Regions from separate parts of the Homo sapiens genome. Here region 2 is linked to region 1. Evidence: fine-mapped expression QTL. Tissue or cell type: whole blood. Region 1 holds a variant in brackets; the other region holds the start of a gene. Each region is shown on its reference strand, or each on the opposite one. Region 1 overlaps CHD7 (chromodomain helicase DNA binding protein 7). Region 2 holds the start of PRSS33 (serine protease 33).

The links. PIP is the estimated chance that this variant, and not a neighbour inherited with it, causes the effect.
Region 2: PRSS33 starts here. The variant in region 1 is the best candidate, but not a certain one, in a credible set for the expression of PRSS33 in whole blood (TOPMed, PIP 0.53).

Annotation. Positions count from the first base shown.
Region 1 is chr8:60,731,289-60,735,674 of GRCh38, forward strand. The region is part of intron 1 of CHD7 (chromodomain helicase DNA binding protein 7); the gene reads left to right. Among named protein-coding and RNA genes, the nearest start is that of CHD7, 55 kb to the left of the region's middle. The variant C/CA (reference allele first, on the strand shown) is at 2,504.
Region 2 is chr16:2,784,922-2,789,307 of GRCh38, forward strand. It overlaps PRSS33 (serine protease 33), which reads right to left and starts at 2,639. Exons shown (of 7, transcript NM_152891.3): 1 at 2,612-2,639; 2 at 1,581-1,683; 3 at 1,168-1,200; 4 at 878-1,040; 5 at 454-725; 6 at 81-250. The coding sequence starts at 1,626.

The DNA of each region.
Region 1 (4,386 bases):
GAATCTTCTATCAGTTAAATTGTGGGGAAGGAAAAACAAATTTGTGCTAATTTTGCTGTTGTATCTCAAACTGCAAAAGTTACAGTCACAGTGCCTGATAAATGCTTAGTTAAGATGGAAAATACATTAAATTTGTGGGTGGAAGACATGGATAGAAATGTGTTCCAACTGACGGCAATGGGGTTTGGTACTGTGCATGGTTTTGAGTGTCCACTAGAGGTCTTGGTACGTATCCCCAGGATGAAGGGGGACTACTGCATAGAAAAAATGTTTCCCAAATTTGTTATAAGTTGAAATGACTGTGAAATATTGGATATGCAACTGTTAACTCTGTATTTCAGCCTTAATTCCATCTCCTTTGTCAAATATAACTTGATTTGAAACCAAAATTTAGTGTCATAGTCACTGAATAAGTTACATTTGTTTTCTTCATTTTTTTTCTTCCTGTAGGTTTACCTTTTTGAGATTGGGTGCAGTTTTCCAAAATACTTTTTCTAATACTCTTCCAAAGATCTCAACCTTCCTTTACAGTTTGAACTCCTGTTTGTATTGCTTGCTTCCCTAATGGAAATCTGAATTTTTATAATTCCTGTGTATTTCTTTTTTGCATTGCCTTAACAGGCATGGGTCTTCGAAAGCCCTGGAGCTCCCTGTGTGGCCCCTGCCATTGGTATGCTGTGATGCTTTGCCTGTCCTGTGCTCAGGTTTATTCATGATGGATAAGACTCCCTTCCTATCACATGTGCACTGTTCTAGCAAAGAGAATAGACAAATTCTTTTCAGTTGTGATGTTGCCCAGGGTTTTGTTTTGTTTTTTTCCCTTTAAGGAAAAGAATGTCAGTGGTGTATATCAGAAAAGACTGTTTACACCCTTTCTATCCCTTGCCTTTCAAACCAGGCAGGATTCAGTACACTTTTAAACTCCCCCAGAATATGAAAAAAGATCCCTTTTCAGCTTTCCAGAAATTTTTTAAAATGTAGAAGAATGTAGGAAATTGCCAAATCAGTTAGTTAATCAGTGACAACTGCAGTCAGTACACGAAGAGCACGCTTCTTACAAGAGCAGCTAGCTGTTTGCTGCTTTCTCAGCCCCTCTGCATGCTTGCCCTTGCCTCACCTCTGCATCCTCCTCCAGAGGTTCAGTGTCAGCCTTATAGGAGCTGGTGATTGCCACGGGGTCCCCAGACAGAGCATGGCCACAGGGCAGCTCCTTCCTTCCCTTCCTTCTGTTCCACCCTCACTTTTTGTAGGCTTGACATCACCTGGAGCTTCTGTGTGTCAAGTCAGTAGCTTGAAATAAGTCTAGAATAAGTGGGAAAATCTTTCCTAATGGTGATTTTTTTAAAATCAGGCTAATAAACATGGTGTTACTAGCCTTTATACACCACCCTGGGCTTTACAAAACCCAGGATATTTTATAATATTAAGCAAGATACATACTAGCAATCAGCAAATTTTGTAAAATATACATTACTCTTCCATAAGTCTGCACTGTAAGCATTCTTGCCAGGTGGGTTGAAATACATTTCTGAAATTTAATTTTTTTCCTATCCAAAATAAATTACTTAAAAAGTTTTCATTTACTTATTTCTAGACCTGTCTCTTCATTTGATTTTCTTCTCTACCATATTACAATTAATTAGGATAACATTCAAAAGATATGAGACCTGGTGCAGTGGCTCATACCTGTAACCCCAGCACTTTAAGAGGCTGAGGCAGGAGGATTCCCTGAGCCTAGGAGTTCAAGACCAGTTTGGGCAACATAGTGAGACTTTGTTTCCCAGGAAAAAAAAAAAATTAGCTGGGTGTGGTGGTACACAACTATAGTCCCAACTACTTGGGAGCCCGCACTGGGAGGATTACTTGAGCCCAGGAGTTGGGAGACTGCAGTGAGCTATGATTGTGCCACTGCACTCCAGCTTGGGTGACAGAGCGAGACCCTGTCTCTTAAAAAAAAAAAAAAGATATGGGATAGATACACATATTTTATGTAGCTACATATGTGATCTACACCTAGGTATGGTATATATAGATACATGTTTGTCTTCATTTCTCTTTTGCCATACAATGTTGAGTACTTCAGGTGCTATTAGAATGTGTGCCCATCTGTTCCTAGGACATGTTGTGTACATGGAATGAAGACCCTGCTGGACATATTTTCTTAGTGTCTGCACTGCGGCAGCAGGTCAGCTGTCTCCACGTTAGGGTCAAGGTGCTGGCCACCTTCTCAGTGGGCTTAGCCTTTAGGAGTTAGCTTCAGAGAGGTATTTGAATTTTGAATTGCAGGGTGTAAAGGACACAAATTTTCATGATCCTTGTGCTTTTGTGGCATAATTTATGTATGGGGTAATATACTCCTTTTGACCACTTTGGAAAAAGCTAGTGCTGTGGGCATGCACTTAGTATAAGCTGTTAGCCAAGTGCTATTTCATTAGTTGCCTTGAAAGGAAACGTTAGCCTCAATACTGCATGAAGGAACAAAAGAACAGCTTTTTTTTTTTAT[C/CA]ATAAAGGCTACTCAGAATATCCAGAGTCTTCAAAGTTATGTAGAAATAACTGAAAGATTTCTGCAAGAAACCTGTGAAATAGTATGTTATGTAACATAGCATTAGATATTAATGTTAACTGCATTTTTTTGACTTGCACAAATGATTGGCAAACAGATGGGCATATCTTTAAAATTAAACCATCTTTAGATACCCACTCCTTGTAAACTGTTACAGATTAAATTTGTCACTAAGGGCTGTTCATAATTCTTTGAATGAAGTCAGTATTGTTTATTTGTCAGACACAAATGTCAAGACTACTTTCTTTAAGTGACATATCTTTGTATTGCTTTATAATATTCTTTGTAACATGTGCCATTTGTTGTTGATCCATTATATTAACTGAGTGGTCAGTGTGCTATCCTGTAGGAGGAGCTCAGAGTCTGAGGGCAGGACTTCCCAAACTTTCACATGCACAGGAATCACTTGGGGCCTTTGTTAATAAAGGCAGATTCTGGTGCAGGAGGTCTGAGGTGAGCCTGAGAGTCTGCGTCTCTTACCAGCTCCCGGGGGTGCCAGGGGTCCTGTCTCTCAGGATTCCACTTCACATGGCAAGGCTCCAGTCGCCAGAAAGAGAGGGAGGTGAACACATAAGAATAGTAGCGTGCTTGGCACTTTTGTAGCTTCTGCCCATGTTGATGTGGTGGTACTGCTAGCAAGGGCTTTGAAATCAGCCTGAAGAGGGAGGGTTGAGGGTCAGGAAGCTTCCGAAGATGGGTGATAACAAAGGAACTGAGATGAAAAAGAGGCCAGCCTCTACAGTGAGGGGATAAGGAGGCCAGGGAAGAGACCATGGGTGTGAAGGCGAGGAAGGTATGAGATAGCTGATGGATGGTTGGTAAACTTTGAGTAGTTTGATATACCTAATGGGGGTGTTTGTGAGTGCTTCAGGGGATAGAGGGAAGGGAGTTAAGGGAGTTGAGAATGGACAGGTCAATAAGGATTTGATTATTAGTGCCTTCAAGCATGCTGGAGCATTTGGACTGGAACCTGAAAGCTATGGGAGGTCCTTTAAGGATTTTAATCAGGGAGAGGTATGATGTAATCTGTGTTTTATAAGATCATTCAATCAGTAGTGTGAAAGCGTTGAGACCAGAATTAGGAGAACTGATTAGATTTCTAATTTTTTGTGGTTCACTAAACCATGAAGGTCTGATTACTTCAGAGCTAGTGTAAACAGGGAGGAGGAGTTAGACCCATAAATATCTGGGAGAGAGCATTAGCAGGTTGGGAAATGCACTGAATATGTGGGATGTACTGGGGCGTTTATTCAAACTGCAAGCTGCACGAGGACAGGGCCACATCTGCTTCGTTCAACACTGTATACACAGTGTCTGTTAACCTTGAATATTTTTTAAATGAATGATGACAGGAAGGATCTAGGCTTATTTCCCATTGTTTGGCTAGGTTGAAGAGGTGGATGGAGATGGTGTTACTGTCATAGCGAATGCTAACATAAGGCGTAGCGTTGCCCTATACGATGTCAGTGGTTTTCCTTATTAAAAATGTGTCTCTTCTGTTAATATCAGCAAAATGGGAGGTAACCTAGTAATATGAATGGAGGTTACCAGTACAATCCTTATTACTATTTATGGTTTTATTTTTAATATGATGCTTGGGGACAAACAGACCTTAGAAGGACTTCACATACTTCTTTTTTTTCTAAATCTTTTTCTGAATTGTGTATAGTTGAGAATTATTCCTAACATACTGAAAATTATTTATGAAGAAATAAGAATATATGTTGGGAGATAATACAGAAAGGAGACATAGGTTGTAAGTATAGTTAACATAAAATATGATATATGGAAAAAATAACATATATTTCATCCCAAAGGGTAGA
Region 2 (4,386 bases), not on the chromosome of region 1:
TCCTGGGTCCTGGAGTTCAGGGAGGGAGGGTGCTGGGCACAGGGAGGGGACTCCGGAGGCTGGGGAGGCTGGGTGCACACCTGGCAGGCGTCCTTGTGGCCCTGGGGGTAGCCGGCACACAGACTCCCAGGCAGCACAATGCGCTCAGCCTGGGGCACGTCCGCGCCCACGTGGTAGAGGCCGTCGCAGGTGCGCGAGTCCAGCAGCGGCACCCTTACTCCTTGTAGCGGTCGCCACTCTGGGAGGGGCACTGGGGGAAGAGGAGGGACCTCTGAGAGGAAGGCGTGGAGCGGGGGCCAGTGGGAGAAGCTGAGCTCTGAGTGAGAGGAGGTTTTGTTCCCTAGAAGCCGCGCTGGGTCCTGGATTGGGGCAGTGAGGGGCTGGGATTTCCAGTCAGATGGAGGAGGACGTGGGGGCTCCCGGATGCCTCGGAGCCCCGCCCTCCTGCCTTACCTCCTGGGCGGAGGCTGCCCCAGCCGGTGACCCGGCATGGTGTGCCGGGCGGCGGGCGGGCGCCGGGCACGGGCAGGCAGACGGGTTGGACGCGAGCGCTCAGGGGCACCGGGCGACGCAGCTGCAGCAGTGCCAGGTCGCCGCGGGCCCCGTCCTCGGAGTAGTCCGGGGGCAGCAGCACCCGTCGCACGGGCACCGAGAGCGTGCGGGGCGAGGTGGAGCCCAGACGCAGCGCCCCCAGGCGCACGCGGTACTCAGCTGGCAGTGCCCTCCTGCAGGACAGGAGCGGGGGACTACTTCCAGCACCGGGTCCTCGACCCCCTCCAGCCCGCCTCGACCCCAACGCCTCTGCCAGGCCACGCCCGGTCCTCTGCGGGCCTTGCCTTCCTTGCACACCCCGCCTGGGCCCTCGGTGAGCGCTGACCTGGGGAAGCAGTGCGCCGCTGTCAGCACCCACTGGGGGGCGATGAGCGACCCCCCGCACACGTGTGCCCCACGATGCTGGATGCTCGCCTGCCACGGCCACTCTCCGTCCCGGCCATCCCGGCCCCCAACGATCCGACTGGACATGCGGGGCTGCCCGCAGGCTAGAAAAGGACCAGGGGCGGTGAGGGTTGGCTGAGGACCTGGGGCCTGGGAGGCAGGTGTTGGTGGGGAGACACGGGGCCGAGGTCCAGGAGGGGCTGACTCGGGTGGACTCCGAGGCTTCCTCACCTGCAGACTTCCTTCCCTGAGTCCCAGCAGCTCCTGGAGGAGGAAGCAGGGAAGGGACCAGATTATAGATTTGGTGTCAAATAACGGAGTTGGAGGGGAGGCCAGAGATGAGGAAGGAGGGTGAAACAATGTTGCCCTGACATTGCGCCAGGCTTTCGTGCCGTCTGTTATCTTATTTAACCCTCCCCAGAGCACTGTGAAGGTGCAGGGGGCAAGGGCGTATGAGCATGACACCGACAAGCACATCGAGGTGTGGTGAGGTCAAGGTCAGTGGCAGAGAGGATTGAGCCCTTGGAATCAAGATTAGAAAGCCCAAGAGTGCTCCAGGGAGCCCGGCCCAGGGAGCAGTGAGATGGGAGAACTGGGAGCCAAGGTGTCTGCGGCCCTCACCCCCAGTCCCTGTCCCCACTCACCCAGCACCAGAAGGAGCAGGACCTGGAGACAGGAAACCCCTCTCATTCTGTCTTCAAGGCTGGGCTGGGTAAGGGTGGCACTGCCTAGGGCTTGGACTCTGGTCTGGAGCCAGCAGGGAGAAGAGAGGAGAGTCCTGGCCCAGGGGCACCAATCCTCACACCAGCCCGTCACCCCCTCCGTGGTCCTTCTGTCTGTCCTCAGCTCCTGGTGGGTTCTGGACTTATCCTGGTGGCCCAGGCTGTATACCCTTCGTTCTGCCCAGGGCCCAGGTATGCAGCACCCACCACCCAGATATTTGGGCATCCTTGGTCTCGACAGAAGCCCTGGAGCCTAACCCCCCTCGGTCATCCTCACTCCCTCCCTCATCCCCCTCCCCCATCCTCACCCCCTCCCTCATCCTCACCCCCTCCCTCATCCTCACTCCCTCCTCCATCCTCACCCCCCTCCTCCTCACTCCCCTCCCTTATCCTCACCCCTTCCCTCATCCTCATCCCTCTCTCATCCTCACCCCCTCCCTCATCCTCACCTCCTCCTCTATCCTCACCCCGTCCTCCATCGTCACCCCTGCTCCTCCTCACTCCCCTCCCTCATCCTCACCCCCTCCCTCATCCTCACCTCTCATCCTCACCCCTCTCTCATCCTCACCCCTCCCTCATCCTCACCCCTCCTCTATCCTCACCCCCTCCTCCATCCTCAGCCCCCTCCTCCTCACTCCCCTCCCTCATCCTCACCCCCTCCCTCATCCTCACCCCTGTCTCATCCTCACCCCCTCCCTCATCCTTCACCCCCTCCCTCATCCTCACTCCTCTCTCATCACCCCTCCTCCATCCTTCACCCCCCCATCGTCACCCCCTCCCTCATCCTCACCCCCTCCTCTATCCTCACCCCCTTCCTCCTCACTCCCCTCCCTCATCTTCACCACTTCCCTCATCCTCACCCCCTCCCCCATCCTTCACCCCTCCTCGTCCTCACCCTCATCCTCACCCACTGGCTGCCCCTGCAGCCCCCACAGCCCCTGGCTTGCTCTCACCCTCACAGCCTGGCGCCTTCTGCTGACTGGGGTTGAGGGAGGGCCTGGGGGCTTAAAGTGCCAGGAGAGCGCGAGGCTCAGCCAAGGAGTAATGAACAGGGCCGGGGCGGGGCTGTGGCTTTACCGGACCAGCCTCAAACAAAGATGCTTTGAGCAGAGCTTCAGAGGTGGCAGGAAAGGGTCAATGGGTTTCTCAAAGGAAGCCTGCCTTGCGCCAAGGTACTAGAAGTGGGGGCTGGCGGAGAGCAGTGGTGCGGGTAGGTGCTGGGAGGGGTGGCAGTCAGGTGGGGAAGCTCTGCAGGATCCGGGGCAACTCCTCTCCAAACCTGACCTGGGCTCCCTGCAGAGCACACGTTGCTGGAGCTTCTGCGCTCCATTGTTCTGTCCAGAAATCCCATCTCAGACGGAAGTCCTGGCCAGACAGCTCCACCCAGAGACCCCAGCATGGCCAGCCCCCTTCCAGATCCGGGGTCTGGAGCAGCTGGAGGTGGAAAGGGACTGGTTCAAAGTTGGTGGCACTCCTTACTTGACCAGAGGCAGGGGGAGACTTGACCTTGGGGACCAGTGCAGTCTTTGGTTTGGGGTGGCCGAGACAGAGCAAGATGCTGGGGTCAGGGGACAGGAACTCCCCTTCTCTCGAGGCCCGTGGAGGACCGGGGCCCGGATGGTCCAGGGCCCTGTAGTTCCCTCTTGGGCTCATACACAGTGTTCGCTGCCTAGAAGTCTCTCAAGTCCCTCTCTGCATAGTGAACTCCTCTTATCCCTCAGCCTTCTGCTCTGCCACCTCCTCCTGCCTCCTTTGCAGCCCTGCCATAGTTGTACTTTTTTCCTTTTTTTTTTTTTTGTTTTTCTTTCTTTTTTTTTTTAAAGAGACAGGGTCTTGGCCAAGCATGGTGGCTCATGCCTGTAATCCCTGCATTTTGGGAAGCCGAGATGGGTGGCTCATTTGAGGTCAGGGGTTTGAGACGAGCCTGGCCAACATGGTGAAACCTCGTCTCTACTAAAAATACAAAAATTAGCCAGGCCTGATGGTGGGCGCCTGCAATCTCAGCTACTCGGGAGGCTGAGGCACAGGAATTGCTTGAACCCGGGAGGTGGAAGTTGCAGTGAGCCGAGATTATGCCACTGCACTCCAGCCTGGGCGACGCAGTGAGATTCTGTCTCAAAAAAAAATAAAAAGGGAGAGAGAGACAGGGTCTTGCTCTGTCACCCAGGCTGGAGTGCAGTGGTACAATCACAACTCCCTGCGTCCTTGACCTCTGGGCTCAAGTGATCCTGCCACCTCAGCTTCCCAAGTAGTTGGGACCACAGGTGCATGCCACAGCACCTAGCAATTTTTTTTTCCAGAGATGGGGTCTTGCAATGATGCCCAACTTGTTCTCGAACTCCTGGGCTCAAGAGATCCTCTTGCTGTAGTCTCCCAAAGTGCTGGGGTTATAGGCATGTGCCACCGAGGCCAGCCCATAGTTGTCCTTTGACAGGGACTTGAGGAGGTTTGATTTACATCCTCTTGTCTCCCCTCCAGCATCAGGGTCTGGGTCTGTGTCCCTGTAGGAGTCCGCTTGGGCTGCCATAAACAAAAACCACAGCCGAAGGGGCTTTCTTTTTTTTTTTCTGAGACAGAGTCTTGCTCTGTCTCCAGGCTGGAGTGCGGTGGCGTGATCTCGGCTCACTGCAACCTCCACCTCCCGGGTTCAAGCTATTCTCCTGCCTCAGCCTCCTGAGTAGCAGGGATTTACAGGTGCGCGCCATCACACCCGGCTAATTTTTTTTTT